Linked DNA regions of Homo sapiens: all the other regions are reported to be linked to region 2. The links are microRNA targets in miRTarBase. Many come from high-throughput screens and were not tested one by one. Region 2 holds a microRNA gene; each other region holds the end of a gene's coding sequence.
Evidence for each region. Region 2 holds the annotated microRNA hsa-miR-5693 (GCAGUGGCUCUGAAAUGAACUC, at 3,240-3,261, shown strand). A microRNA usually pairs through its seed, bases 2 to 8, with sites in the 3' UTR of a target mRNA and lowers its output. Matches are read on the target gene's strand: a 7mer-m8 pairs with bases 2 to 8, a 7mer-A1 pairs with bases 2 to 7 and ends in A, and an 8mer does both.

Region 1 (4,966 bases), not on the chromosome of region 2:
TGGGGAGCTAGACCCTGGGTACTTCATCAGGACTATGGAGAAGAGGGTAAAGTAAAACGCCTGATGCTCAAAACTAGCAGGCGGTGGTGGCCTGATCTCGGCATACCAGGAAAGGATTTTGTGAGGAAATTGTGCTTTAGTCAAAAGAAGTTGTTCGTGAGGCAGAGGATGGGGTGATGGGAGTACTCGTAGCAGAGGGGACAACACCTGTGAATGTTCTGAGGGAAGGTGCTTGACAGCTCATGAATTCTAATCAGCTTCTAAGATATCTGCCAACTAATCTTTATCATTACATTTCAGGAAACTGGAGCACCCATCCTAACTGATGATGTTAGCCTGCAGGTGTTCATGGACCATTTGAAGAAGCTGGCTGTCTCCAGTGCCTGTTAAGCTGAGGATACAACCAGGAAATGCAACGGTGTCAGATTGTGTTCAAAATGTCTAGAAAGGCTTGATAACATTCCTGTTACTTTTCTAGCAGATTTTAACAAATAATCAAGGACATTTTATATGTAACTCTTTAGATTATAATTTATTTGTATTCCTGTCTTTGTCCTTTTTCTTGCACTATAAAATTATAAGGTCATAAATGTTTTGGTACTTGTAGATGTTTATGTGCTTTTTGTATCCTAACTTTTAGAATCTAAATAAAATCAGAGGTAATGTATTTTGGCAGCTTGTTTAGGTGAGAATCTTAATGATCATAAAGGAAATAAATCTAGATGCAGAAAGTACTGGCTAAAATATTGCTAATACAAATGTGATTTCCTGAGGTCTCTGTGTGAGTGTGTATGTGTTTTAAGTGACTTCCTTAAGAGGTGTTTCCTGAACCTAATTCTCATAATTAAAGTAATGTATATGCAGGATCAAAATGAAACAAATATACCTTATCCTAAAGAGCTCATAACAAATAAGTTACCTCCACTCTATAAACTCAGACCTACTTTTTGAAGATAACTGCTTTTAACCTCTCCTTACAAGATTTTTGTTGTTGATGTATTTAATTTTAGCCCATGTCTCAATTCTCATTTTCAAAGAATCAATATATTAATATACCTTTGGTCATTTTTGTATTTTTATTTTTATATTATCAAGATTGGTAAAATGTATATTCTGGGTCAGATACAGTGGCTCACACCTGTAATCCCAGTGCTAAATTTAGGAGGCCAATGCAGGAGACTCACTTGAGGCCAGGAGTTTAAGACCAGCCTGGGCAACATAGCGAGACTGTCTCTACAAAAAATTTTAAAAGTTACTGGGCCATGGTGGTGTGTGACTGTAGTCCTAGCTACTTGGGAGGCTAAGGCAGGAGGATCACTTGAGCCCAGGAGTTCAAGGTTGCAGTGGGCTCTCATCATGCCACTGCACTCCAGCCTGGGTGGGAGAGCAAGACCCTGTTTCAGGAAAAAAAAGAGATTATATTCTGGCCTATTATCATATTTTTTGTCACTAAGTTGATTGTCAAAGCTGAAAGCTCCTAAGAAGCATTTACACAGCCGTGATGATGTAAATATTGTTCCAGTCCAAGCCAGGTAGGATGACATTTTTCTCTAGGGTGCTAGTGTCCCAGTCAGTCCCTATGTCACTTGTAGGAAAACATTCCAAAGGACAGAATCAGAGTTACTTTCTTACATTCCATCATGCCGCATGTTGGTTTGATCCCTATTTGGATTATGATTTCTTAGATTTGCTGTGGTTTTCCCCAGAATTTCTAAATTTTGTTTGCTTTCTGAGAGAAGAAATATTTTGCTTTCTATTTACTAAGAAATTCTAGCCTATTCTACTGAATGAAGTCCATTTTTTTCTTCTTTGGAGGCCACTGATGTCCCCTTTTAAGGGGGGCCAATAACTTTGACCTACTGCACAACTGTCATCCAGGAATTTCTTCTGTTTGGAATCTCGGGTTAGTTCCACTCTTCCCTTTATTCCATAAGGCATTTTGCAATCTCAAATGACTTTTACTAAAAGGAGTACTTGGGGAGAACTCACTGCATCTTAGCATATCTGCAAATCTATTCTGTCTTCACACTTTATAGCTTTGCCAGGTAATATAGTTTGGATATTTGTCCCCTCCAAGTCCGTCATTGAAATGTAATCCCCAGGATTGGAGGTGGGGCCTGGTAGGAGGAGTTTGGGTCATACCGCTGGATCCTTCATGAATGGCTTGGTGCCATCCTCACAGAAATGAGTGAGTTCTTGTCCTGGGTTCAAATGAGGTATGATTGTTTAAAAGTGTGTTGGCTGGGCACAGTGGCTCATGCCTATAATCCCAGCACTTAGGGAGGCTGAGGCGGGCAGATCACCTGAGGTCAGGAGTTTGAGACCAGCCTGGCCAACATGGTGAAACCCCATCTCTACTAAAAATACAAAAATTAGCCGGGTGTGGTGGCTTGCGCCTGTAATCCCAGCTACTCAGGAGGCCGAGGCATGAGAATGGCTTGAACCCAGGAGGCAGAGGTTGCAGTGAGCCGAGATCGCACCACTGCACTCCCTGGGGGACAGAGCGAGACTGTCTCAAAAAAAATTTTTTTAAAGTGTTACCTCCCCCACCTCTTCCTCTCGTTCTTGCCATGTGGTACATCGGGCTACCTCTTCACCTTCTGCCCTGATTGTAAGCTTCCTGAGGCCTTCACCAGAAGCAGATGCTGGCACCATGCGTCCTGTACAGCCTACAGAACCGTAAGCCATAAGCATAAACCGTAAACCTCTTTTTAAAATAAATTACCCAGTCTCGGGTGTTCCATTACAGAGATCCAAAGACAGACTAACCCACTGGGTCTAAAAAGTATAGGCCCAAGATAATCTCAGAACTTTGGAGTCATTCTTTCATTCGTTCAACAAATAACTATCCGGTACTTGTTGTCTATGGAGTAGTCTTCTAGGCATTGGGAATACTGCCAATAAAACAAAAATTCCTGTTTTCATAGAGCTTATGTGTTAGTTAGGGAAGACCAACAATAACAATGTTAGAAGTAAATGATATGGCCGGGCGTGGTGGCTCATGCCTGTAATCCCAGCACTTTGGGAGGCCGAAGTGGGCGGATCACCTGAGGTCAGGAGTTTGAGACCAGCCTGGCCAACATGGCGAAACCCTTTCTCTATTAAAAATACAAAAATTAGCCAGGCATGGTGGTGCACACCTGTAATCCCAGCTACTTGGGAGGCTGAGGCAGGGACAAATTGTTTGAACCCAGGAGATGGAGGTTGCAGTGAGATTGTGCCACTGCACTCCAGCCTGGGCAACAGAACGAGACTCCGTCTCAAAAAAATAAAAAACAAAAAAGAAATGAAGTAAATGATACATTAGAAGGTAATGAGTGCTATGTAGGAAAATGAAGCTGGAAGCTCCTATTAATTGGATGTTGGAACAGCTGGATTGATTGCAATACTCTGTTTTGAATTTGTATTCGAATACAAGTTATTGTATTTCTTTTTGTCTCTGCCCTACATTCTAGCAGAATTCTAGCAGAGTTTCCTATCTTAAAATGTTGAACATTGGCCAGGTGCGGTGGCTCACACCTGTAATCCTAGCACTTTGGGAGGCTGAGGTGGGCAGATCACTTGAGGTCAGGAGTTCAAAACCAGCCTGGCCAACATGGTGAAACCCCATCTCTACTAAAAATATTAAAAAATTAGCCAGGAGTGGTGGTGGGCACCTGTAATCCCAGCTACTTGGGAAGCTGAGGCAGGAGAATCACTTGAACCTCGGAGGTGGAGGTTGCAGTGAGCTGAGGTCACGCCACTATACTCCAGCCTGGGTGACAGAGGGAGACTTCATCTCAAAAAAAAAAAAAAAAAAAAAAGTTGAACATTTACATTTTTCTGTGCGTTTTCCAAGAATATTTTTAGTTTTGGATATAATTTTTAACACATCATATAGAAGAATACATAAAGTTGTCTGTACAGATTAAGGCCAAAACATCCTCTTTGGCTTTTCTGTTTCAAATTAACAGAAAAAAGACTGTGTGATAGACCCAGCTAACTCTGCGGTTCTCTCTAGTGTCAGTGAGTTAAGGAGCTGAGGGAACTGCATGGTATGACATGGCCATGCAGGTCCCACCTTAGGGTACCAGTGACGTTTTTCCACAGAATGTAGGGGGTGGCAGGGTGATAGTGCTGTGTGGAAAACAGCTATCATGAGAAGGGGCCACTGAGCCCAGTATGCCCAGTGAGGACTCTGAACTCCATCTTTTTATTAATTGTTAATTTTTGTGGGTATTGAACTCCATCTTGAAGGTAGGGCAAGCCTCTGACTTATCTTAGGCAGAGGGTGAAATGATAATTTAAGGTTTGAAAGACACTCCAGAGGGGGAAGGATGAGAGGAGACTGTAATCCAAGTGAGAAATGAGGCCTAAACAGAGACAGGGTATTTAGACAGAGGTGACAGAGGATGTCAGGTGAGATGATTCCAAGTTCCTGGCTTGGGCAATTTCTCAATCACTCTCTGAATCAGGGAAGAGAAAGGGAAGGTTTGTTTCCTGTTGGGAGTGGCATTGATAAATTCAATTCGGAACATTTTTTTAGTTTCAGGAGCTTGTGGAATATGCAGCCGAGGATGCATAGCAGGTTGGCAGTAACATGAATTTGCTTTCAGAGAATCTGGAGTAGATTTGAGAGTTATTAACATATAACATAGGTATCATGAGTAAGGCTGATGAGAAGGATGAGAAGAGACGCAAGCTTGAAACAATACCAATTTTTCTGTTTTGTCTATAACTATTGAGCTATAGTTCACATATAATAAACTGCACCCATTTAAAGCATACAATTGGATAAATCTTGACAGAAACCACCACAATAATCAACATACAGAACATTACCATCACCTCTCAAAGTCTCCTCAGACCCTTTTAGCCCTTCCCTCTCTCCATGCCCTTACTGCAGACAACTACTCATCAGCTTTCTCCCACTGGAGTTTGCTTCTAGAATTTCGTGACTGGTTTCTTTGGTGTCTAGCTTGCTTTT
Region 2 (5,080 bases):
GAATCCCTACCTCATACTATATACAATAATTAATTCAAAATGGATTAAAGACCTAAATGTAAGAGCTAAGCCTATAAAGTTCTTGGAAAAAAAACATACACCTAAATTTTTGTGACCCTAACTAGACAGTGGTGTCTATTCAATATAATATGGCATCGAAAGCGCAAGAAACAAAAGAAAACATAGATTAATTGAGCTTCATCCAAATTAACAACTTTTGTGCTTCAAAGGACACCATTGAGAAGTGAAAAGAAAAACCACAGAATGACAAAGTATTTACAAATCATATATCTGTTAAGGTACTAGTATCCAGAATAAAGAACTATTACAACTCAATAATAAAAAGACAACCAATTTAAATATGGGAAAAACCTCTGAAATAGACATTTCTACAAAAAAGACATTTCTCCAAGTACATGAAAAGATGCTCTACCTCATTAGTCATTAGGGAAATGCAAATGAAGTCCACAATGAGATACTACTTCACACCAACTAGAATGGCTAAAATAAAAAGATGGTCATTAACAAGTGTTGACAAGGATGTGGAGAAACTGGATTCCACACACATTACTGGTAGGAATGTAAAATGGTGCAGTGACTTGGAAAACAGTTTGATAGTTCTTCAAAATGTAAAATGTAGGGTTACCACATGACCTAGTAATTGCATTCTTAGGTGTATATCCAAGATAATTGAAAATATATATACACAAAAAAATGTGCACTTGATTGTTTCTGGTGGCCAAGAAGTTAAAACAAGCCAAAATGTGTCTAGGCACTCAAATATCTATAAATTGATGAATAGGTAAACAAAATGTACTATATCAATACAATGGAATATTATTCAGTCATAAAAAGGAAGATAGTATTGATTCATGCTACTATGAACCTTGAAAATATTATGCAAAGAAGCCAGACACAAAAGGCCACATATTGTATAATTGTACAATATGTAATTGTATAATTTCACTTACATGAAATTCTCGAATAGGCAAATCTATTGAGAGCAAATAGATCAGAGGTTGCTGGGAGGTGGGGAGGGGAGCTGGGAGTGACTGCTAATGGATATGGGGTTTCTTTTTGAGGTGATGAAAAGGTTCTGGAATTAGTAGTGATGGTTGCACAACTTTGTGAACATACTGAAAACCTCTGAATTGTGTACTTTAAAATGGTGAATTTTATAATATGTGAATTATATCTTGATTTTTTAAAAAAGAAACACTCCTAGAAAAGCATAAACCACACACCATGATAATCAGCAGCTCCTGGGAGGAAGGGCAAAACTCATTTTGAATATGTGGGATCTGGTGGATTTTAAGAAGATATATATTATATCTAATATCAAAACATGCTCATGCTCAGCCTTCTATGTTGACCTAATAATCAAATGTTTTATTCATTACATACATATTTGGCATTATTAGTCTTTCTTGTGGGACATCATATGATTGTGGTTATAAACAACCCTTAACACATTCTTGGTTTTCTTGATTATTCCTTTAGTATGCTAAGCGTCCCTCATGAAGATTAACAGTCCCTATGCACTTTTTTTATTTATTTATAAATAAAAGGTTACTTTGGAAGCTAGACACCATAATTCGTCCAGAATCTACTAGTGCACTGCTTGGTGATGTCTAACCTGAAAGCACATCTCATAGTCACACAATTTTGCATTGCTACCCACAGTGTGCAAAATTTTTTTGCTCTTGTTAAACGAAAAATGCCTGCTGACTGCAGAGCAAGTCATACTAAAAGAAGAATGAGTGATTTGAGAGAATGAGAGGTAAATCCCTGCCTAAAAGCTGACTTTGTGTCTACCGTGATCCAAAGTTTATACCTAAATCTAGACCTAAGAGAGTTTTTACTTTTTTTGTTTTGTTCCCCAAAGGATTTAAAGCTAGCTTAAAAACAAACAAAAAAAACTTGGTTAGTTTTACTTGTGAAATAACTTCATTTTCCTAAAAACCTCTATCCTCCTTGGACAGCAGTCTTGGTAGTCTTAAGGAGATTTAAAAAAAATTATCAGAATGAGGTTAAGTGCTAACTAATAGTTGTGTTACTAAGATTTCTGCCTTGCCTTGCCTTCCCTGCCTGCCAGTGTTTTTCAGTTTTCAAACTGCTTGAGGGTTTGAGACTCCTAAAAGCAGAATCAGGACGGTGGAGAGTTCTCAGTGGAGCTGGGAATTTCCCCGGGGTCTCTTCCAGGGAAGAACTGCTCGAGGATGAGTCCCACCATCTGTCTCTTAAACCCAAAAAGGTTGTGGCGAATTCTCGCACCAGCCTCCTTTTTCTCTCTACTTTTGACACGGAACGCTGCTCTTCCTTCCCTTGCTGAGTTTCTCTCAAATATAATAGGAAGATTAGGGTTGCTTCTGCTCCCTCCCTGAGAGATCTGTTGAAATATCCAGTATTTGGGTTTTGGTTTGGGGTCCAAATATTTAGTTTTGAGAGATACACTTTACCTTAGAGTTAAGTGCACCTTTTGCCCTGGGTTATGCCAGATCTCACTTTAGACCTTGGCCCTTAACTTACTGGGTCTCTCTTTGTATTTTTTCCTTCTAGTGCATAGATTTACTTTTAACTCCTCAAGGGAGTACTGCCAAGGACTTTGCCTTTGCCTACTGGAAGCCCAGGCAGTGGAGAGAGGCCAAGGCATCTAGTGGCTACTGGACAACATTCCTTGCTTAATGCTGGTCAAAAAATGGTTATAAATTTACTCTGATTTCAAATACATCACAGAAGCTCATCATTTAAAGAAGCCCTAAGAGGAGTCTTTTTGTAAAGTTATGAGTTTTGCTAATAGATTTTGTTTTGAAAAAGCAACATAGAATGCCACCACTTCACTTTTTGATTTGTATTTGTACCTATTGGGTCTTCTTAAAGGAGAGTTCACCTCCATTTAGAAAGAATGAGAACCTTCTGCACAGAGACTTAAAGTGTCAAAATTTTATGCCTTAATTTGGCGTCTGATCAGAATTTTATCTGTACTTGCTCAATTACGTAAGTCATCTTATCTCTTTGGTTTTGGAAAAATGACAGTTGTATACTCTTAGGATGGGATAAGATTTGGGCAACGTTCCTACAAGGGAACCACGAGCATTTCCTTTCCAAAAACTGGTCCAGCCTAGGGCTGGATCAGGGGGTCCTGGGGGGCTCCATTCCAGCCCAGTGAAGGCAGAATATCTTGTCTTGGAAAGACTCTGGGAAGTTAGTTCATTTCAGTCTGTGCTGTGAGCTAGCCAGCAGTGGCTCTGAAATGAACTCAAACTCTAGGGTCACTTCCTCTTGGTCTAACTTCTGGGGATACATATTAAACAAGTCATCCCAGTGGCTAAGCACAGACCCTGGAGGCAGACCACCTGTGTGCAAATCCACGCTCTTCTGACTGCTGGCTGCACAGCACCTGTGAGGGGGACTCAGCTGCTCACCTGGGCAGGAACACATCCATCCTGGCTCTCCTCAGGCTGGTGGTCCAGAGGTGGATGGTGCTGGCTGTGAGGTGTGGCTCGATGTGGCTCAGGGGGGTGTCTTTGTCACGGGGCAGCACCAGGAACAGACTCACTGCACTTCCCAGGTAAGGAAGCTCCAGCACCCCCACCTGATGGCCTGCAGTGTCCTGGAACTGACCTGAGGGTACAGTGGATCAGAGGTCAGCTCTGTCCCAGGAGCCAGGAGAATGAACCAGTGTCGGACCCTGAGAGAGGCTGGCTCAGAGGACTGGAAACAATAAAACCGAGCATCCACCTCACCCTCAGGAGGCGGTTTCAGGCCAAAGACTGTTGGGCGATATGGTCATTTTATAAAAATCCTAGACCTAGAGTCTTTAAGATACCCTCACAGGACCAGAGTTAGAGGTTCTCTAGGACTGGGTATGGGGGGGGGGACGATGGCACATGCAGAACCACATAGAGTAGTGCCCCCTTATCCTTGGCAGATATGCTCCAAGAACCCCAGTAGAGGCCTGAACCTGTGGATGGTAACGAGCCCTGCATATACTATGTTTTCTCGATCTGATGACTGAGATGGCTACTAAGTGACCAACGGGCATACTGTAGACAGCCTGGGGATGCTGGACAAAGGGATGGTTCATATCTCAGGTGGAACAGAGAAGGACGTCAGGAAATTTCACCACACTATTCAGAAGGGCGTGCAGTTTAAAACTTGAGAATTATTTGTGAAATTTTCCATTTAATATTTTCTGATGCGGATAACTGAAACCTCAAAAAAGCAAAATCATGGATAAGGGTACAGGGTACTACTGTACCCGATCTTAAAGGAGCAGCCATTCAATCCCGGCCTATTGTGCCTGCCAGGGTGGCAGTTTGGTCCAAACTCTACTAGTGCAGAAGGAAATGTCAGGCATGAAACTGAGTTTCTCTTCCACATCTGTGTCCTCACTGTCCTGTCAGAGCACACTGTCCCACACTCCTCTCTAAAGTCTCCGGGCACCTTAGTCTTTCCTTCCGCCATGCATGCCCAGTCCAGCAGATGGACCCTGCGGAAACACATCCCGATCCCTTAGGAGCAGGGACCTGGCCTCCTCTCTCCTGCCCTCAGGCCCAGGCTTCCTCTCCCTTTAGACAAACCAGCAGGGGCAGAGCTCACCGTAGTTGACCTCGGTCGTTTGGTGCATCATGGGGACCTGAAGGACGAGGCCATAGGCACAGGTGAAAGGCAGGATCTGTGTGTCTGTGGAGGAGAATCTCTTTCGCCAAGTGCCTTGGAAGGACATGGTGCTCACAAGCACAAGCTGAGCAAATGCTGCACTGACTTGCTCCCACGGCCAGCCACCAGGGCCCTCACTGGGGCCCCCACCTGCAAGCAGGAAAGCAAGGTGGCCATGGGTTAAATGTGCATTGAAACTGAACCGAACCCAGTGTGTGTGCGGACAAGGAGTGCAGAGTTAAAATGCGAAAATGCAGGTCTTTTTGCTTAAGGTGGTCTCTCTCTTCATCTTACAATATCTTTTTAGTCTACTTAAGAATATTTAATTCCCTGTCTCAGCTCCTTGTGCTGTCAGGGACCCAAGGCACCAGGAGCTGCTCTCAACTTTTGGGGACTGTTGAGCGATATGGTCATTTTA
Region 3 (4,355 bases), not on the chromosome of region 2:
CTACACCCAAGCCCCCCAGTGCCACCAGCCTTTGCCCCAGCTCCCCCTGAGCACAGCCCCTCCTGGCAGCCATGTGCACAGATGCACATGCAGCAGCCTCTGCCTGCACACAGAGACACAGACAACCCAGTGCCTGTCCACGTGGGGCAGCCCGTTAACTACAGAGCCAACAAACAAGCCAGCACACGAAGACGTACTGGGTTCCACGACAGAGTCCCCCCACAACCTCGCACAGGAGGCTGGCCGGGCGCAGGGCTCAGGCCTGTCATCCCAGCACTTTAGGAGGCTAAGGCAAGAGGACTACTTGACCCCAGGTGTTCAAGACCAACCTGGGCCACATAGTGGGACCCCATCTTCACAAAACATACAGAAGCTAGCCAGATGTGGTTGCACACGCCTGTAGTCCCAGCTACTCAGGAGGCTGAGGTGGGAGGATGGCTTGAGCCCAGGAGATGGAGGCTGCAGTGAGCCCTGATCTCACCACTGCACTCCAGCCTGGGCAACAGAGCAAGACCCTGTCTCAAAAAAGCAAAGAAATAAAAAATAAAAAAAAAAAAAGGAAGTCTTTCTTCAGATACTTACGTGAAAAAAAACCTGCAATATATTTTAAGTGAAAAAAACAGTGCCAAGCAGCACACATAGTATAAGCCCCCACCCACCTTTTTTTTTTTTTTTTTTTTTGAGACAGAGTCTGGCTTTGTATTGCCCAGGCTGGAGTGCAGTGGTGCCATCTCGGCCCACTGCAACCTCCCACCTCCCAGGTTCAAGCTATCCTCCCATCTCAGCCTCCTGAGTAGCTGGGACTACAGGCACGTGCTACCACACCTGGCTATTTTTTGTATTGTTTGTAGAGTTGAGGTTTCGCCATGTTGGCCAGGCTGGTCTTGAACTCCTGACCTCAAGTGATCTGCCGCCTCAGCCTCCCAAAGTGTTAGGAATACGGGCGTGAGCTACTGCGCCCAACCCCATTTTTGTTTAAAAACTAATAATAATCACCCACACATGGTTATGAGTACCTATATTCCCAACTCCTCAGGAGGCTGACGCGGGAGGATGGCTTAAGCCCAGGAGTTTGTGGCCACCTTGAGCAACATAGCGAGACTTCATCTCAAAACAAAATTTATCACAATAATCATTTTCACATAAGTATACCTATAGGGGAAAACCTAGAATATACATATAGCAGTCTTGTCCAACTTGCGGCCCAACGCAAATCTGTAAACTTTCTTCAAACAGTACGAGGTTTTTTTGTGATTTTTTTTCTTTTAGCTCATCAGGTATTGCTAGTGTTAGTGTATTTTATGCGTGGCCCAAGGCGATTCTTCTTCTTCCAGTGTGGCACAGGGAGGCCAAAAGATTGGACATCCCTGATATACACATTAACAGGTGCCATCCTTGGATGGCAGGATTATAGAGATTTCTACACATTCATGTCTGTACTACTTCATTCTTATAAATACGCATTTTCCACTCGTAACAAAAAACTGTGATTGAAAATCGTCCCGGGTCACAGTGTCTCACGCCTGTAATCCCAACACTGTAAGAGGCTGAGGCTTTGGGAGGCTGAGGTGAGCAGATCACGGGAGGTCGAGTTCAAGACCAGCCTGGCCCACATGGTGAAACCCCATCTCTACTAAAAACACAAAAATTAGCCAGGCGTGGTGGTGCACGCCTATAGTCAAAGCTACTCGGGAGACTGAGGCAGGAGAATCACTTGAACCTGGGAGGCGTTGCAGTGAGCTGAGATTGTGCCACTGCACTCCAGCCTGGGGAACAGAGTAAAACTTCGTCTAAAAACAAATAATAAAAGAGGCTGAGGCAGGAGCATCACTTGAGGCCATGCGTTCAGGACCCCATCTCTACAAAATAAAAAAATTACTGGCATGGTGGCACGCACCTGTCATCCCAGCTACTCAGGAAGTGGGAGGATTGCTAGAGCCCAGGAGTCGAGGCTGTAGTGAGCAATGACTGTGCCACTGCACTCCAGCCTGGGTGACAGAACAAGATCATATCTCAAAACAAAAAAAAAGAATCATTCTGGCTAACGGCTCTTCAGACATCTGTGCTTATGAGAACAGCAGCCCCTTCTAAGCTGTGTGTGTGTGTGGGTGTGTGTGTGGTGCGTGTGGTTTTTTTTTTTTTTTTTTGAGACTTAGTCTCACCCTGTCACTCAGGCTGGAGTGCAGTGGCACAATCTCAGCTCACTGCAACCTCCACCTCCTGGGTTCAAGCAATTCTCCCACCTCAGCCTCCCAAGTAGCTGGGATTACAGGCACTCGCCATCATGCCTGGCTAATTTCTGTATTTTTGTAGAGATGGGATTTCACCATGTTGGCCAGGCTGGTCTCGAACTCCTGACCTCAAGTGATCCGCCCGCCTTGGCCTCCCAAAGTGTTGGGATTACAGGCATGAGCCACTGTGCCCGGCCGCTTTCTAAGCTTTGTGAAGAGTGGGTTGACTATTCAGATCTCTGCTTCTGTCCCGCTGTGCCAAGTGCTGGGGCAGACACAGGCAGAGAGTGGACAGCGGCACGGTGCCTGCTGCTAGCCATTTCTATGCAAAACCAGCTTTCTGGTCCCATCCTGGAGGCCAATTCTAGGCACCTGGGTGGGCCTGGGAACCTGTGAACCAAGTAAACTGACTTGGACACCCCCCTACCCCGCCAGGCCTGTCCTAGCAGCCCCACACAATACCCTCATGTCCTGTCCCCAAACACCGCCATCCTCAAACACATGTGCTCTGTTTCCAGGCCGGGCCGGGATCAGATGGGAAGTGGAACCTCGTCATGAGCAGAAACTGTTTCCCTACGAAGAGCACTTGGAGATGGCAATGCTGAATCTCACCCTGTAGGACTCACACACGACTCCAACGGGATTGTGAGAATCAAGTCACTCTCATGGGAAGAATTTTTATATGGGAAAGCGGATAAAACTTTCATTGGACTGGAATGTTTGGAGAATGTTAATTTCCAAATCAGGAACCACAAACTGCCCTCTAATAAGACATCGGCTATCTAAGCGTGTGGGTGCCCCCTTTCTGCCAGCAGTTCTGGTTCTTAAGAAAATCACCATAAATCAGACATGAAAATTCTGGCTCCAAAAATAGCATTTTCTTTGTGCAAATAAAAACGTGTGTATCAAGTATGATGTTCCCCCAACGTGGACACACTCAGTTCCTCACAAAGCCAAGCCCACTGCAGCTGCCACATCCCTGGGCTTACGGTGCAGCAGGTGCTTTTTTCAAGACAGGAATCAAAATGTTAGGAACACGGCAGAAAGGGGACACCTGGAGACCAAACGCAGGATGAGGAGTTCTGCAGAGGTCACAGGGAAGTCACAGAACAGTAATACGCTAGCAGGGGCATGGGGCGTGAAGAACAGAAGAAGAGAGGAAGCGTTTCCAAGCCTCCAGAGAAGAAATCAAGGCCAACCAAAGCTTCCCGGGTCACAGAACCAATTCTTTTACCAGGCAGTACCACTGCTGTCATTTCAGCTTCTGGCCACTGGGAGGTGCTGCTCGAAAGGGTTTGCCCTGAGACTCCAAGAAGAAGCTGCGGGAAGGACAGCAGGGGTCCTGGGGTTTTAGCCTCTGGCCCAGGAGTTATGTGTCCATAACCAAAGGGAGCACAGTCTGCACCCAGCTCTCATCCCATCGGAGCTGCTGCGACTCCCGCAGGTTCTTCCGGAACTGGTTTAGCTTGCCCGCAGGATCAGGAAAGTTTGAGAAAAGCATCTGCAAAAAAATAAAGAGCAGAGCTTACCTCATTGCCTGTCCCCACCCCATCCCAGGTCACCACCTGGCTGACCCCAGGTCCCCGACCCAACAACAACCCCTCCCAAGTCCCTAACTCCCTCACTTGGACTCGAGACCCTTCACACCCCAGCAGCACTCCGCCTCCAACTTGACATCACAGTTTCTGGAAACTTCCCCGCATGTCCCACTTTCCCACACTTGGTGCCCTGGAGCACCTCCCGGCCTCTACGTGCTGCCCATTCCCCTGTGAGCACCCTCCTCTCGGCCTCTGGCCAACGCAGTCTCACCCATCTGTGGGTAACAAGGGGGTGTCGGTGTTCTTTGCAGCCTTGCTAAACTGTCTGAATCAAGGATCACAAACTACAGCCTGCAGGCCAAATCCAGCCCACAGCCTGTGTTTGTAAATAAAGTTTTATTGGAACAAAGCCACACCCCTTAATCTACAGATGATCTGTGGCTACTTTCACACCCCAACAGAGTACCATGGTTCTGACAGAGACTGGGGAACCCAGTCTAAACGACTTCCGACCTGGACCTTTACTGAAAATCCTGCCAATCATTCTGTTGGCAAGAATGATGTATTACTTTTTGCAATAAGAAAC
Region 4 (4,934 bases), not on the chromosome of region 2:
TCAATTTGACATGGTGGTGTAAGTTCTATGAACAGATGAGACCAGACAGTTATTATAGATGAAACATAAAGGAATCTAGGACTTTTTTCCATAACCTTTCCTCTCAGTACATGATCATCCTTGGTTTGGTCTTCATCTTCCAATTTGTAATCTCTTGCTCATGTCTGGCTATTAACCGAAGCAAACAGGTAAGACAGTACCCTTTCAAGTACTTACTTGCTTTTTAAAATTTTCCTCTTAACCTCGAACTCCTTCCTTAGTCTGGCCCCAACTACCCAAAGATCATCCTTAGGTGCACTGCTTCTGGCCTCTTGGGCTATTTGCTTCCTCTGGGATGTCTGGTTAATTTTCCATGAGGATGATCTAGAGAACCTCAAAAGGTAGATATTTATCGTGTCTATAATTGTTGCACACCGTTATGCTTCTGTTTGACTTCCTTTGCTGGGCTAGGGAAATTGAGGCACTTGAACTGATAACAGGATGTAGGGAGACTTAATTTCCCTCTACCCATATCTTTCAGACAGATGTCATCAATGCTTCTTGGTGGGTCATGAGCAACAAGACTCGGGATGAACTGGAAAGAAGTTTTGATTGTTGTGGCTTATTCAACCTCACAACCCTGTATCAACAAGATTATGATTTCTGCACTGCAGTGAGTGTGTTGGGGGTGGTGCAGCAGCCAGGGGAGGTAGGAAACTGGGTAAGGACAATGCCCAAGTTGGCAAATTTAGTTTGAATGTCATTGTTTCTCTCTCTACAAGCCCTCTTGTATTGGGGCTGTGTTGGTGGGAGGTGGGGGTGGATAGAGGCTGGGGAATTAGCCAAGTAGGATTTTAGTTTGTAGGACACTGGTCAGATAACAGTAAAGTTTCTAGGGACATTCGGCATAGGTATTAGTCACTAGCAACTTTACATTCACAACTTTGCATTCTTCACGTTTTATCCTCAGATCTGCAAGAGCCAGAGCCCCACATGCCAGATGTGTGGAGAAAAGTTTCTTAAGCATTCAGACGAAGCCCTGAAAATCCTAGGGGGTGTTGGACTCTTCTTTAGCTTTACAGAGGTAACATTCTCCAGTTCCCTCACACACATCCTTTTTGAGACTGAGAATTAATTGATACTTATCTCTCTCCCTTTGTTCCTACAGATCCTTGGTGTTTGGCTAGCAATGAGATTTCGGAATCAGAAGGATCCTAGAGCCAACCCCAGTGCCTTTCTATGAGACTTTGGATCCTTCTGACTTTTCTTCTGCTCTCTCTAAGCTTTCTCTTCCTCCCTTAGGGAATATCTAGGGTCTGTAACCGTTTTGGTTTGAGAAAAAGGAAAGGCCCCTTGTCACATCCTCTAAAATTGATGGAATAGCAAGACTTTATGCCTTGACATATTTTAGTGGGAGCCAGACTATAAGGAATAAAAGGAAAAACTTTCTTCCTCTCTCTCCAAGAGGATATGGGAAGCTTCTGTGAGTGCATAGGATGGGGGCTGGAGTCATTCTTAGCTGTTTCCCTTCCTCTGTCCATATACTGGATCACCTCAACATACCCTGGTGTGGCTCTAAGGGTAAATCAGGGATAGGGCCAAGGAGAAAACAACCAAGAACTCTTTCCTGTAATAAGCAGGATCCAGTTTGAGAAAGTTTAGCGAATATAAAAGTAAAAGCCATTTAAAAATCTATATTCTTTTTTTTTTTTTGACACAGAGTCTTGCTCTGTTGCCCAGGCTGGAGTGCAATGGCATGATCTCGGCTCACCGCAACCTCTGCCTCCCGGGTTCAAGCGATCCTCCTGCCTCAGTCTCCCAAGTAGCTGGGATTACAGGTGTGCACCACCACGCCTGACTAATTTTGTATTTTTAGTAGAGACAGGGTTTCACCATGTTAGTCAGGCTGGTCTCGAACTCCTGACCTCAGGTGATCCACCCGCGTTGGCCTCCCAACGTGCTGGGATTATAGGCGTGAGCCACCACGCCCCGCCTAAAATCCATATTCAAAGAAGCAATTTCAGTTCCTTTCTAAGCTTTGTCAGTCAAGGGGCTCCACTGACTTCCTAGGCCCTGTAATTTAACCAGTCTTTAAGGTTTTGCAGGAAAGTCCCTTCTTCCAAGTGGTTTTTCCAAATCGCACAATGGCAAAGCCAAACAGAGGAAGAAACATTAAAAAAAAAAAAAAGACCATTATTTCTTTGTTTTGTTTTTCCTGTATAAAAAAGGACCCCAAATATAAAGGTAGGGAAAGGGACAAGAGGGAACATACCCCTTAGTGTAGAGAAATGGGAAGGAGAAGGAGAAGCCTCAAAAGGAGAGGTGGGAGGGGAATGTCATTAAGGCAGCAAAGTAATCTCTGTAGAAAGATGGAGGAGGACCCTCCATAGCCTCAGAGATAAAGGCAAAGATTGCCCTCTCAGTGTCCAGAAGGGAAATGGCAGCTTTTCTTCCTTCCATGGCAGCCACTCCATTGCTCACTCCGGATTACCTTCATCCTTATGTAGATAAGAGTGCTGCAGAGCTCGAAAGGCAGAGATTCGCTTGTGTGGGTTAAAAGTCAGCATTTCCTGAGGGGAGAGGCAAAGGTCAGAAAACCATGAAGAAAACAGACTTCTGCCCACCCACAACAATACCTGGGATGAGCTTTCTTCTTTTTTCTTTTTTTTTTTTTTTGAGACGGAGTCTCGCTCTATCACCCAGGCTGGAGTGCAATGGTATGATCTCAGCTCACTGCAACCTCCGCCTCCTGAGTTGAAGTGATTCTCCTATCTCAGCCTCCCAAGTAGCTGAGATTACAGGCGTGTGCCACCACCCCCGGCTTATTTTTGTACTTTTAGTAGAGACGAGGTTTCACCATGTTGGCCAGGCTGGTCTCGAACTCCTGACCTCAGGTGATACGCCCACCTTGGCCTCCCAAAGTGCTGGGATTACAGGCGTGAGCCACCGTGCCCAGCCAGGATGGGTTCTCTTCTATATCCTTCTCTGTGGGTGGCTATTTGCAGCTGTAATAAAAACTACAGCCCATCTACCAACCAAGTTTCATTAACCACAGTGGCCAGGGCCCTGCATACTGCTCTATTTCTTTCCCCAGTCTCTATTTCTTTCCCTGTGCCCACAGCCATCTCCAGTACCAGCAGCAGCTGTGCTCCCGACTCCTCCATCTCAGGTACCACCGACTGCACTGGGCGGGGCCCTCTGGGGGGAAAGGCTCCACGGGGCAGGGATACATCTCGAGGCCAGTCATCCTCTGGAGGCAGCCCAATCAGGCTGTGGGGGACAGGAGAACTCTGGTCAGGAGGGTCCTCCAGTTCCCATCCCCATGGGCAGAGCCAGTTGCCATCCTGGGTTCAGCAGAAAGAGGACTCAGAATAGAAAATCTTTTTCTCCCATGTTGGTCACTTACTCAAAGATTTTGCCCAACTGGTCGGCTTCAGAGTTTCCACAGAAGAGAGGCCTAAGGTGAGAAGGGATATAAGGTAGCAGTCATTTTCAAAGATATCTTAGTTGAATGGTTACTGCTTAGTGGCTCAAAATAGGAAGTATAGGGAATAAAGGCCAACAATTCCAGCACTTTGGGATGCTGAGGTGAGAGGACTGCTTGAGCCCAGGAGTTCTAGATCAGCCTGGGCAAGCAAGACCTTGTCTCTTTTTTTAAAAAAAAAGAAATGCCAGGTGCAGCGGCTCACGCCTGTAATCCTAGCACTTTGGGAGTCTGATGTGGGTGGATCATGAGGTCAAGAGATCGAGACCATCCTGGCCAACATGGTGAAACCCTGTCATTACTAAAAGTACAAAAATTAGCTGAGCATGGTGGCGTGCACCTGTGGTCCCAGCTACTTGGGAGGCTGAGTCAAGAGAATTGCTTGAATCTGGGAGGTGGAGGTTGCAGTGAGCAGAGATCGCACTACTGCACTCCAGCCTGGCGACAGAGCAAGACTCCATCTAAAAAAAAAAAAAGCCAGTCATGGTGGCGTGCACCTGTAGTCTCAGCTACTCAAGAGGCTGAGATGGGAGGATTGCTTTAGCCCAGGAGGTAGAGGCTACAGTGAGCTGTAATTGGGCCACTGCACTCCAGCCTGGGTGACAGAGTGAAACCTTATCTCAATAAATAAATAAATAAATAAATAAATAAATAAATAAATAAATAAAAAATAAAGAGAATAAAGGGATATGAAGTTCCTAATTCCAGAACATTTCAGAGCTTTCTGCTATGGGCAAGTTAGTAGTACGCAAGTAAAAGAATGGGGCCAGATGCAGTAGCTTATGCTACTTTGGGAGGTAGGGGTGGGAGGATTGCTTGAGTGCAAGAGTTCAAGACCAGCCTGGGCAATATACTGAGACCCCATCTCTATAAAAATATTAACAAACTAGCCAAGCATGGAGGTGCGTGCCTGTAGTGTCAGCTAGTTGGGAAGCTGAGATGGGAGGATCACTTGAGCCCAGGAGGTTGAAGCTGCAGTGAGCTGTGATCATGCCATTGCAATCCAGCCTGGGCAACACAGCAAGCCCTGGTCTCAAAAAAAAAGAATGGGCAAGGTATGGATGTGGTTTATGAACAAGCGATTTGGGGAATTCAAGGTAGTCCAGGGTATGTGGGTCCCATACTTTCGACGAAACATCTCTGCAAAGATACAGCCAACACTCCACATGTCCACAGGTGTTGCATATGTGGACTGCAGAAGAACTTCGGGAGCTCGGTACCAGAGTGTAACAACCTAAAGGGAATAGGAAGAATGGATGGGGACCCCATGGGTTACCATGAAACACAACTTGCTTGACTGAACACATGAAGCACATGACTTCTCAATTGCTACGGGCAATCACTCTCCTACTCCCAACCAGAACCCATTTTGGTACCATCTTTCTACTGACCACGGGTGTAAGTGCCATCTGGTAGCTGTAGATTCTGGCCAGGCCAAAGTCAGCCAGCTTGACTGTTCCACCACTTGTCA
Region 5 (5,028 bases), not on the chromosome of region 2:
ACTACATTGTTTTCAAATTGCTTAGGATATTCTAGTTCCTTTGCTTTTTAATGTATTTTAGAATGAGCTTTATTCCGATTCTTTAGAATCAGAATCATTCAACAAAGAATCCTTCTGGGATTTTTATAGGACTTGTATTAAACCCATAAATCAACTTGGGGGCAACTTAGTTAATATATTGTCTTCCAATCCATATAAATGGTTATGTTTCAGACTCTTTAAGTCTAGACATTTACAATCTATTATCTCTCTGAAGACTGCTACCTGGAAGATTCATCTGCATAAAACCTTGGTTTCCACAACCCCTTATCATATCCCAGACACCAGTATCTATCAATAATAACCGACTCCCAATCAGAAAATCTTTGGATTTGTCTATGACCTGGAAGTCCCCACTTCCAGTTGTCCCACTCTCCTAAGCTAAATCAATGTACATGTTACCTGTATTGATTGATGTCTTACGTCTCTCTAGAATGTATAAAGCCAAGTTGTAACCCAATCACCTTAGGCACATGTTCTCAGGATCTCTTGAGGGCTGTGTCACAGCCCATTAGTCACTCATATTTGGCTCAAAATAAATCTCTTCAATATTTTAGAGTTTGACTCTTCATCAAGGTCCTGTAGGTGTTTTGTTGGATTTATACTTAGTATTACATTTTGAAATTGTAAATGGTATTAGCATATAGAAATACAATTTGATTTTTGTGTGGTTGATCTTGTATTCTGTGATCTTACTAAATTCACTAGTTCTTGTAAGTTCTTGGAGATTTCTTAGAACTTTGTATGTAGAAAATAATGTTAAATGCAAATATAAAGTTAATTTTTTCATTTCCAATCTCTGTGCCTTTTATCCCCTTTTCTTATATTATTGCACTGGATATCAAGTACTACACTGAATAGGAGTGGTGAGTGTGCATATCCTTATCTTGTTCCTAATCTTAAGAGGAACGCATTTAGTCTTTCATCATATATTATTTTGTAGATGCTGAATGTTTGTGGAAGAAGGAAGTATAACAACTTCATGGACTTTAAGTGTACCTGAATTCAAAGTGTGGGAAAGTGGAAGGACATCATTTACAATTAAAGAAATCTAAATTCTCTCCTTGATTCTGATACTATATAGACCCTCAAAGGCCATGTTAAGAGCCAATAAATGGAAAACAGCAAGAGTTTTAACGATGGGGGCAGAGGGGGAGGGAGCAAAATGGCATTATATTATATTCTAAATATTTTGAAATCGTTCTCATATTTACTGTAAATGAAATAACATCTTAAATAATTTAAACACAATTTAAATTAAAATATAATTTACCTTTTTATTTAATTAAAAATTGTTTTACAAATCAGAACATCTGAATTATAATCCCTGATCTGCTAACAAGCTATGATCCTTGCATATAACTGGTTCTCATTTTTGTCACTCTAAAATTAGAACATCACAAGATAGCCAGATGCAGCAGAGGATACCAGAAAAAATGCTGACTTGGAAACCCCTGACATCCTGGGTCTGGTCCATGCTCTGTAACACAAGAGGTTAATTTATCTGAACCTCAGATATCCTCATCTTAAAATGAAGTACAACAAAATCATCTCCAAAGTCCTGTCTAAAATCCTATGGTTCTATGAAATGAATTAAAATGAAGTTACTTTGATGATATGTGGGCTACAGTATATAAGACAAAAAGATTAATTGAAATATTTGTCAATAAAAAGTTGAAGTATATGCTTGCAGCATACTAAAATACTGGTCTTCCCTTTATATTTTTCTCTACATCCTCTTGTGCCCCCAAATCAGTATTATTTTTATGGTTAAGCTGTGTAAATATGTCCCCTTTTCACCTCTGTTGGCTTAGAATGCTAGGAGCTGAGCTGCACTAAGACATTACTTCTTTCGTTATATGGAATTATCTCCTTGCTTTAAATGATTAGATTCTGAAATAGCATCCCTGACATGTCTAAAATAAGAGTTTTACACTTAAAAAATGTTGAAGAGTAGATAAGCAGATATATTAGTCAGAAACATACATGGCTAAAGTAACAGGAAACCAAACAGTGTCTTAAACAATCTGGAGTTTATTTTTTCTCATTTAATAATTGGGGAGTTTGGCAATTGCTCATCTTGATTTGGGTGTTCAACAATGCCATATCAGGGACCCAGGATCCCCTTAATCCTCCTTCAGTTCTATCTCTGAAATGTAACTTTCATTCTCACATTTGCTGTTTCATGGTTGTTTGATGGCAGCTGCACCTTTAGGCATGCTGTTGGCCAGAAAGAGGAGAAAGAGGCAATGACTGTTACCACACAAAGCTCTGATTTTTTAATTTGAAAGGAAAGCCCTTCTCAGTAGGGTTCTGTTCATTTCATTCAATTTCTCAATTGCAGTAGTCACATATCAAGTACTCAATATCACATATGGTTAGTAGCTACCACAATAGAGAGACAGAATGGATGGTTGATTTCCTTCACTGCAAAAAGTTCTGCCTCGTACTAATCAGACTATACAGAATTAAACTACCACTTCTGTTTCAGATCAATGAAGGTGCAACCTCTGGAGTTGGGGTAAGGTCCTAATCTCTTTGAGGAAGAGGGATCCTTGCCACTATCAGATCAAACTAAGGTACTGCTAAAGAAGAAATAAAGGTAATAGCTGTAGGCAACTGCCTGCTGTAATGGGATTATCAGTACATTTAAGTTGAAGTTTATAAATAACTAAGGATTGGCAATGTGCTTAACAAATATAAAATCTTGGAAAGAAGTTATTAAAATTTTGAAAAAATAAAGTGATACTGGCCAGGCTCAGTGGCTCATGCCTGTAATCCCAGCATTTCGGGAGGCTGAGGCGGGTAGATCACTTGAGGCCAGGAGTTTCAGACCAGCCTGGCCAACATGGTGAAACCCCATCTCTACTAAAAATACAAAATTAGCCAGGCATGGTGGCACATGCCTGTAGTCCCAGCTACTCAGAGGCTGAGGCACAAGAATCGCTTGAACCCGGGAGGAGGTTGCAGTGAGCTGCGATCACGTCACTGCACTCCAGCCTGGGTGACAGAACGAGACTGTCTCAAAAAAAAAAAAAAAAAAGTGAAACTAAGGCAGACAGCTATAAGAGGCACTGAATTACTTATTACACAAATATAATTGCTAGAGTAAACACTAATCCAGTGACTGACGGGGAGGAGGTTTGAAGGGGAAAAGGTAGTGAAACAACGTGCAGGCACTATTTTCTTTACAGAAAATGTAAATTTCAAATGGTTCATCATGTTGAAAATGCAGTTACTAATTTCATGTGTACAAAGACGGGATCTTTGTGGTAATAAAGATTAGTAGAGAATTACCTTCAGATGAGAAGAGTTCTTTCACAGAATATATTAATCAGCTGCCTATTACTCGTGGCAGAATAAAACGAAAATGACTGTAATATGAAAGATTAGACTAGATATGGAGAATAATTTATTAGCAGAACTATTCAAAAGGTTAAAAGAAGCTGATATTGACAATACTTTTCTTTCTAAACACTTCTAGATTGTCAATTCCTCCACAATCCCCACTTGTCCAAAGCAGCAATGACAAGTCTGTAGATGCCTCTGTATATTTTTAGTAAAAATAAATTTAAATATATTTATTATAAACAAATACCATAAATATTTGCGGTGAACAGTTGCTATTTTAAAAACTGATTTGTGTCTAAATGAAATTTAACTTTCAAGTCTCTTCTATTTTGTTGAAACATGTCAAATACTGTTGAAGGTAGCATAATGGTTGTTTATTATGAAAAGAGAAAAATAAAAAATTCTAACTAAGGTAATGATAGAATAGGAAAATTTTAACATTTTTGTTTCTAAGGATAGTTTTAATTTTCTTATTTTTTTCAAAATTAAAAATAACTACAACCCCTTTAATCCCTACTCTTTATGATTCTTTAATATTCTTTCATGTAATTTACTATTAAAGGATTCAATAAATATAACTTGCATAAAAGTTAAAGTGTCGTAACACATATTTATCTTAAGGCATTTTATATGTAAAAATCTCAATTATGTCCTATATCAAAACAAAAATTTTACAAAGAAATATTGCTGAACTTTGGAGAATGACATATTTTAAGCAAGATTCATCAGAAGGATATTACAGCAGATAAAACAATTCAAATAGCCCACTGGAATGTACAGCAAAATCCAATTCGACAATATAAACAAAGTCAAAATAATCTGCTTCGGTCAGCTACATATGCTGTGACTTTGCTATCACCAGTAAGGAGTTAACTAGAAACTGAGTTCTTAAACAATATATCCACTGTGAGTATAACAAAATGAAGTTAGAATCTTCATATGCAAGTTTAATAAATCATCATGGTTTATTTAACAAGGTTATACTACATTAGAGTTTTATATATATACATGTATATGTGATATGAAGAGACTGATGTACAATCAATAAGTCTTAAATCTCTCTTCCATGGATTTCCCCCATCTCCCCACTTAGCAGTAAAAGGCATTTTTAGGTTTATATAAACACATTCTTTACAACTGCCTTCTTAACAGAAAATTACTGTAGTATATAAATAGCACTGAGCATTTAGTAAATAAGTTACAGGCCAATAAGTTCAATTGTGCAGTTGTGAAATCTAATGTCAAAGAGTTTTTGAAACCTTAAGACTGGGTGATCTGCAATGTTTCCAACATGTCTTCGACAGCCTTAAGAGAATATTTGGTTTCCTTCTTACTTCGACCTGCAAACTAATTAAAAAAAAAAAAAAAAAGCTCAATTAGGCTCAATTTCAGTGGCAGGTTAAAAATGACAATCTTCACACTGTTAATGAAACTTAACATTGACTATTTTATCACTAGTAGGAAATCAAATATATTCTTTGCTTTTTCAATAAGAATAAAATTTGAGTATTAAGGACATTTTCCTTTAAGGTCTTACCTTCAGCTGAAGTGTACAGAGAGTTCACTGCACACTTGGCCAGTTTAAGTGTTTACATAATATAATAACCCATAAAATCATGTATTTGAAACTATCTTATT
Region 6 (5,070 bases), not on the chromosome of region 2:
CCTCTTCTACACTCCCTTCACTGCTTCAATCATTAAGTCATAAAAATTTGAGCACCAGGCAACGTGAGGCACCTAGTGAAGACATAAGAGAAATCTGCTCCCTCTTCTCATGGAGTTTCATTTTGTGGGAAAACACATAACAAATACACAGTCAGCATTCTTTGATCGCACTTATCCCATCGTTTTGGAACCAGTTTATATATCTCTTCTGATATTCACGAGATCCTCCAGGCTGTGCATAGAATCTGATTTACATATGGATTCCCAACACCCAGTCACTAGAAATTCACATTATCCATATTACACAATCCAAACTTTGAAATGGATCAAACCAGAATTCCTTCTTCAGTCCCAGTTGCCTGATTCTAACTTTCTTCATCCGGTATTATTTTCTCTCTGTTAACAGGACTTGGTGGCACAAAATACATCTCCTTTGAGGAACGGCAGTGGCATAACGACTGCTTTAACTGTAAGAAGTGCTCCCTCTCACTGGTGGGGCGTGGCTTCCTCACAGAGAGGGACGACATCCTGTGCCCCGACTGTGGGAAAGACATCTGAATTCAACACAGAGAAGTTGCTGCTTGTGATCTCACACACAGATTTTTATGTTTTCTTTCTCACCCAGGCAATCTTGCCTTCTGGTTTCTTCCAGCCACATTGAGACTTTCTTCTAGTGCTTTTCAGTGATACTCACGTTTGCTTAAACCCTTTAGTGCTTTGTGATAGTTCAGTCCCAGGGAAAGAGAAAACTCGCCCTAGGCCCTAGGTGGGAAGATGGTTTGAAATTTTTGTAATCGAGTAAGGCACACCCAAATGTAAAAATCCTTTTGAATGATGCCTTTATAAATCTTTCTCTCACTGTCTATTTAAGTGCAATTAACATATGTCACGAACTTGAAAGTTTTCTAAACTCAATAAGGTAATGACCAGTTGTTATTTACAGCTCTGTAACCTCCCGTTGCGTCAAGTCTAAACCAAGATTATGTGACTTGCAATAAAGTTATTCAGAACAGAATCTTTTGCCAGGCACAGAGTGTGAAATCATGATTACAGGTCGAGGCACTGAGTCTAAGTAACACTTTATTGCATGGTCCCATGGTCACTGTATGAAGTGCAGTTCCAATGTTCCAATGGCCTGGGGCATTGCCAACTGGAACAGCATCACACCCTTTAAAGGAAGCCTTCGGCTGGGCACGGTGGCTCACGCCTGTAATCCCAGCACTTTGGGAGGCCAAGGCGGGTGGATCATGAGGTCAGGAGATCAAGACCATCCTGGCTAACATGGTGAAACCCCGTCTCTACGAAAAATACAAAAAATTAGCCGGGTGTGGTGGTGAGCGCCTGTAGTCCCAGCTACTCGGGAGGCTGAGGCAGGAGAATGGCATGAACCCGGGAGGCAGAGCTTGCAGTGAGCTGAGATGGCACCACTGAACTCCAGCCTGGAAGACAAAGAGACTCCGTCTCAAAAAAAAAAAGCCTTCAGTCAGCACCAGGCACCTCTTCCTTGCTACCTTCTCTCCCTTTTTTTTTTTTTTTTTTGAGACAGAGTCTCGCTCTGTCGCCCAGGCTAAAGTGCAATGGCACAATCTCAGCTCACTGCAACCTCCACTTCCCGCGTTCAAGCGATTCTCCTGCCCTCAGCCTCCTGAGTAGCTGGGATTACAGGCACCCACCATTATGCCCGGCTAATTTTTGTATTTTTAGTAGAGATGGGGTTTCACCATGTTAGGCTGGTCTTGAACTCCTGACCTCAGGTGATCCACCTGCCTCGGTCCCCCAAAGTGCTGGGATTATAGGCATGAGCCACCGCACCCAGCTACCTTCTCTGTCTTTCCCATACTCTTTCTCTTGGAATGTAATCCTCTGCATTTGACACAGTAACATAAACTGACAGTGAAGCCAATTTTCAGGTCATTTTTCTTGGCAGAGCTTATCGGCTCTGTCCCAGTGTTATGGATCCACATCTTACACCGACTTCCATAAAGTGAAAGATTGCACAAGGACATAAGCAACTTGAGGCCAGAGACGACATCCTGTTCATCTTTATGTTCTCAACACCCTCGCAACTGAGGGCACACTGGGAGCCTTCAGTGTTTCTGAAAAGGGCAGTAAAGCAGGAGAGACACACAGTCATTACAGTAAAAATAACATTCTGAGCTACTAGTGTGGCAGTAGTCTGTGGAATAATCTCAGATAGCAGTATACAGTTGGGAAGCACGGAGCCAATGTATGGGATAGAACATTGCACAGTTCTCTTTAGAATGGGAGCATCAGTGACCTTTTTGTCCTTAGTTTTCTAAGACAATGCAATATAATAAAATGATAGGCTGAGCAACAGAAAAATTTGGTGGAAATCAAGTCTGATATATGCTGAGCATATGTGAAATCAGTTTCTTAATCTGAGTGTTAGTCACTGTTAGAATGTTTGATAATGTCTGGAATGAGTCTTTTGGTTTTATAGTTGACTTGAGGTTTTGCTTAAAAAGAATAATTTCATCCTTTGTTAGTTGTTTTGCTGTTTTCTACTTCATAATATAAAAGTAAAAGCACTCCAAATTTCATTTTGGAACATCTTACTTGTTCCTCATTAAAACCATAGACTCTCCCAACCTTAAATTACCCATTCTAAAATTAATGGTTAGGGGGAATTCCACTTCTAGTAAATAGCTCCAATTGGACTAATTCTCCTCCAAATTAACAGTCATTCTGGACAAAATATTTATTTAATTGTTAAGAACACTGGAGCACGATCCAAAGCAGGCAGATATTGGAGGGCAGTAGACACTTGGAAGAAGAGAACGACACTGGGTGATTTTCCTGTTTCGGCCTTTTATCCAATGGCAGGCCCCCGCCAGGGATCTAAAACTCTGTTAGGAAACCTGCAGTCTTACTGGCCTGAGGAACCAGAGGCCAGAGTTCGGGACAAACAGCCTCTGGAAAGTGAGGAAGAAAATCCTGAAAAGGAGAGCCCCAAGTTCGTCGCATGAACTTAGAAATTTCTGGCTGACAACTGAACCGTGTATACTTAGGCCAGACTCCAAGCAGCCCAGCCAAGGCTAAAAGCATTGACTGACAGGACTTTACAGATAGTGGTTTGCAGGGCTTAGCTGACCGACCCTCTTCCTACTGAAGGAAATTACTTGTATATAAACCACACAACACAAAGTCTCTGAAAATTTCCCCAGAAGCATACAACAAATAAACATTCATTCAGGAAAATCCACTACTAAGTCTTAGAAAGAACAGTGAGTCTGTGGCATTTGAGCCACAGCCTCATCCTATCCCATCCCCACTCCCCAGCTTCATGTGACAAACTCTATTCTGGACCAATGCAGCCAAAAATTAAGGGGTCTCTCTTCCTCCAGCTACCAGTCTAGGGCTTTGCCCCAGGTGCGACAGGCTGAGAATCGTAGAGCTCCAATTGCCCCTACCCTAGCCTGCTTAGTGCGGAGGCTCCACATTGGGAGGGGCAATCTGAGAAGACCAGCGGCTATCAACCCACTCACAGAGAAGGGATGTCAGTCCTGGAGAAGCAGGCTGCTGTCCAGCCCCCAGAGGAGATCCAGGCTCTGAGACTGGTAACCCAGCAGTTATGCCCAAGGGGACTGGTATTTGGTACGGAGAACGAGAAATCTTTGCCTAAGGGGATTGTCAAAAACAATAAGACATCTTACCAGTGAGCCATTAAGGAAGGGGCTGGTAACTCCATGCTATTAGTAGCAAAAAGCAAAATGACAGACCAGCCAGAAGTTTAACACAGAAAACCAGAGAAAGAGATAGCCAAGAAGAGCCCTCCTGGAATCTGGTTTATCCTTGAGGTTCGGGAAGTATGTATGGACAGGGCTGTATCCACTCAGGAGCAATCAGATGTGAAACAAACTTGAAAGCATTCTCTAAGGCATACACAGATCCATCAGCAAAGAGCAGAAATCTTATTAGCTCAAAGTGCTTAAGCAGAACCTCTGACCAAACACTGGCTGAACACATAAATGTGTTTGTTCAAAGAACTAAAGGAAATCATATTTAAAAAAGGAAGGTAAAGGAACAATTACAGTTGTTCCTCCATATCCATGGATTCCTCATCTGTGGATTCAACCAACTGTGGATCAAAAGTATTTAGGAAAAAAAAAAAAAAGTTGACACAGTTCCAAAAAGCAAAACTTGGATCTTCCACATGCTGAGTACTATGTTGAATCCATGCAAATGAAGTGATGTGTAAGCATTGTATTAGGTATTATTATAAGTAATCTAGAGATTTATTTAAAGTATACAGAATGATGTGAATAGGTTATATGCAAATTCTATGCCATTTTATATGAGACTTGAGCATCCATGGAGTTTGGTATTTGTAGGGGGTCCTGGAATTAATCCCCCACAGATACCAAGAGATGACTTTACTCACCAAACAAACCAATAAAGAGATAAAAATTATTTTTAATAAATCAAATGGAATTCTGAAGTTGAAAAGTATACTAAATGAAATGAAAAATTCACTAGAGGGGCTCAGTAGTAGATTTGAGTTAGGAGAAGAAAACCAGTGAACTTGAAGACGGAACAACAGAAATTATACAATCTGAAAAACAGAAAAAAGAGTGAAGAGAAATTAAAAGAGCCTCAGAGAAATGTGAGAAACCATTAAGCATACCAACATATGTGTAATGGAAGGACTAGAAGGCTAGGAGAGAGAAAAAAAGAACAGGAGAAAATATTTTTTCAGAGTTCATGACTAGTCAGGTGCAGTGGCATGCGCCTGTTGTCCCAGCTACTCAGGAGGCTGAGGTGAGAGAATTGCTTGAGTCTAGGAGTTTGAGGCTGCAGTGTGAGAAAACAGCACCTGTGAACAGCCACTGCACTCCAGCCTGTACAACATAGTGAGACCTTCTTAAAAAAGAAAAAGAAAAAAAGAGTTAATGGTTGAAAAAGGCCCCAAATTTGATGAAAAATATTAATCTACATATTCAAGAAGCTCAATAAACTCAAAGTAAGATAAATGCAGAGACCATACCCAGACACATTACATTCAAAATGCTGAATGCCAAAGATAATGAGAAAACTCTGGCTAGATGTAAA

Region 1: miRTarBase lists SEC23B as a target of hsa-miR-5693. The part of its 3' UTR that is shown has no 7-base or 8-base seed match.
Region 3: miRTarBase lists ALG1 as a target of hsa-miR-5693. Seed matches in the 3' UTR shown: 7mer-m8 at 2,184-2,190.
Region 4: the mRNA of TSPAN31 is a reported target of hsa-miR-5693. Seed matches in the 3' UTR shown: 7mer-A1 at 2,035-2,041 and 7mer-m8 at 4,043-4,049.
Region 5: the mRNA of EMC2 is a reported target of hsa-miR-5693. Seed matches in the 3' UTR shown: 8mer at 2,798-2,805.
Region 6: miRTarBase lists FHL2 as a target of hsa-miR-5693. The part of its 3' UTR that is shown has no 7-base or 8-base seed match.

Annotation. Positions count from the first base shown.
Region 1 is chr20:18,560,351-18,565,316 of GRCh38, forward strand. It overlaps SEC23B (SEC23 homolog B, COPII component), which reads left to right. Exons shown (of 20, transcript NM_006363.6): 20 at 301-1,065. The coding sequence ends at 390. Among named protein-coding and RNA genes, the nearest start is that of SMIM26, 4.6 kb to the right of the region's middle.
Region 2 is chr13:51,346,757-51,351,836 of GRCh38, reverse strand. It overlaps MIR5693 (microRNA 5693), which reads left to right and starts at 3,198; the gene lies at 3,198-3,270. SERPINE3 (serpin family E member 3) reads right to left here. Exons shown (of 10, transcript NM_001386375.1): 5 at 4,603-4,812; 6 at 3,426-3,624. It also overlaps a transcript of INTS6 not described here.
Region 3 is chr16:5,084,127-5,088,481 of GRCh38, reverse strand. ALG1 (ALG1 chitobiosyldiphosphodolichol beta-mannosyltransferase) reads right to left here. Exons shown (of 13, transcript NM_019109.5): 13 at 1,103-3,732. The coding sequence ends at 3,601. EEF2KMT (eukaryotic elongation factor 2 lysine methyltransferase) reads left to right here. Exons shown (of 8, transcript NM_201400.4): 8 at 2,750-4,198. The coding sequence ends at 2,850. Among named protein-coding and RNA genes, the nearest start is that of EEF2KMT, 11 kb to the left of the region's middle. RefSeq lists an enhancer at 3,342-4,254.
Region 4 is chr12:57,746,069-57,751,002 of GRCh38, forward strand. It overlaps TSPAN31 (tetraspanin 31), which reads left to right. Exons shown (of 6, transcript NM_005981.5): 3 at 108-188; 4 at 521-652; 5 at 950-1,063; 6 at 1,148-4,151. The coding sequence ends at 1,222. CDK4 (cyclin dependent kinase 4) reads right to left here. Exons shown (of 8, transcript NM_000075.4): 4 at 4,855-4,934; 5 at 4,588-4,697; 6 at 3,386-3,436; 7 at 3,114-3,249; 8 at 1,659-2,549. The coding sequence ends at 2,457. It overlaps MIR6759 (microRNA 6759), which reads right to left and starts at 2,614; the gene lies at 2,550-2,614.
Region 5 is chr8:108,486,221-108,491,248 of GRCh38, reverse strand. It overlaps EMC2 (ER membrane protein complex subunit 2), which reads right to left. Exons shown (of 11, transcript NM_014673.5): 11 at 2,053-4,737. The coding sequence ends at 4,651. Among named protein-coding and RNA genes, the nearest start is that of EMC2, 45 kb to the right of the region's middle.
Region 6 is chr2:105,356,771-105,361,840 of GRCh38, reverse strand. FHL2 (four and a half LIM domains 2) reads left to right here. Exons shown (of 7, transcript NM_001318895.3): 7 at 407-1,015. The coding sequence ends at 558. It also overlaps a transcript of C2orf49 not described here. Among named protein-coding and RNA genes, the nearest start is that of C2orf49, 22 kb to the right of the region's middle.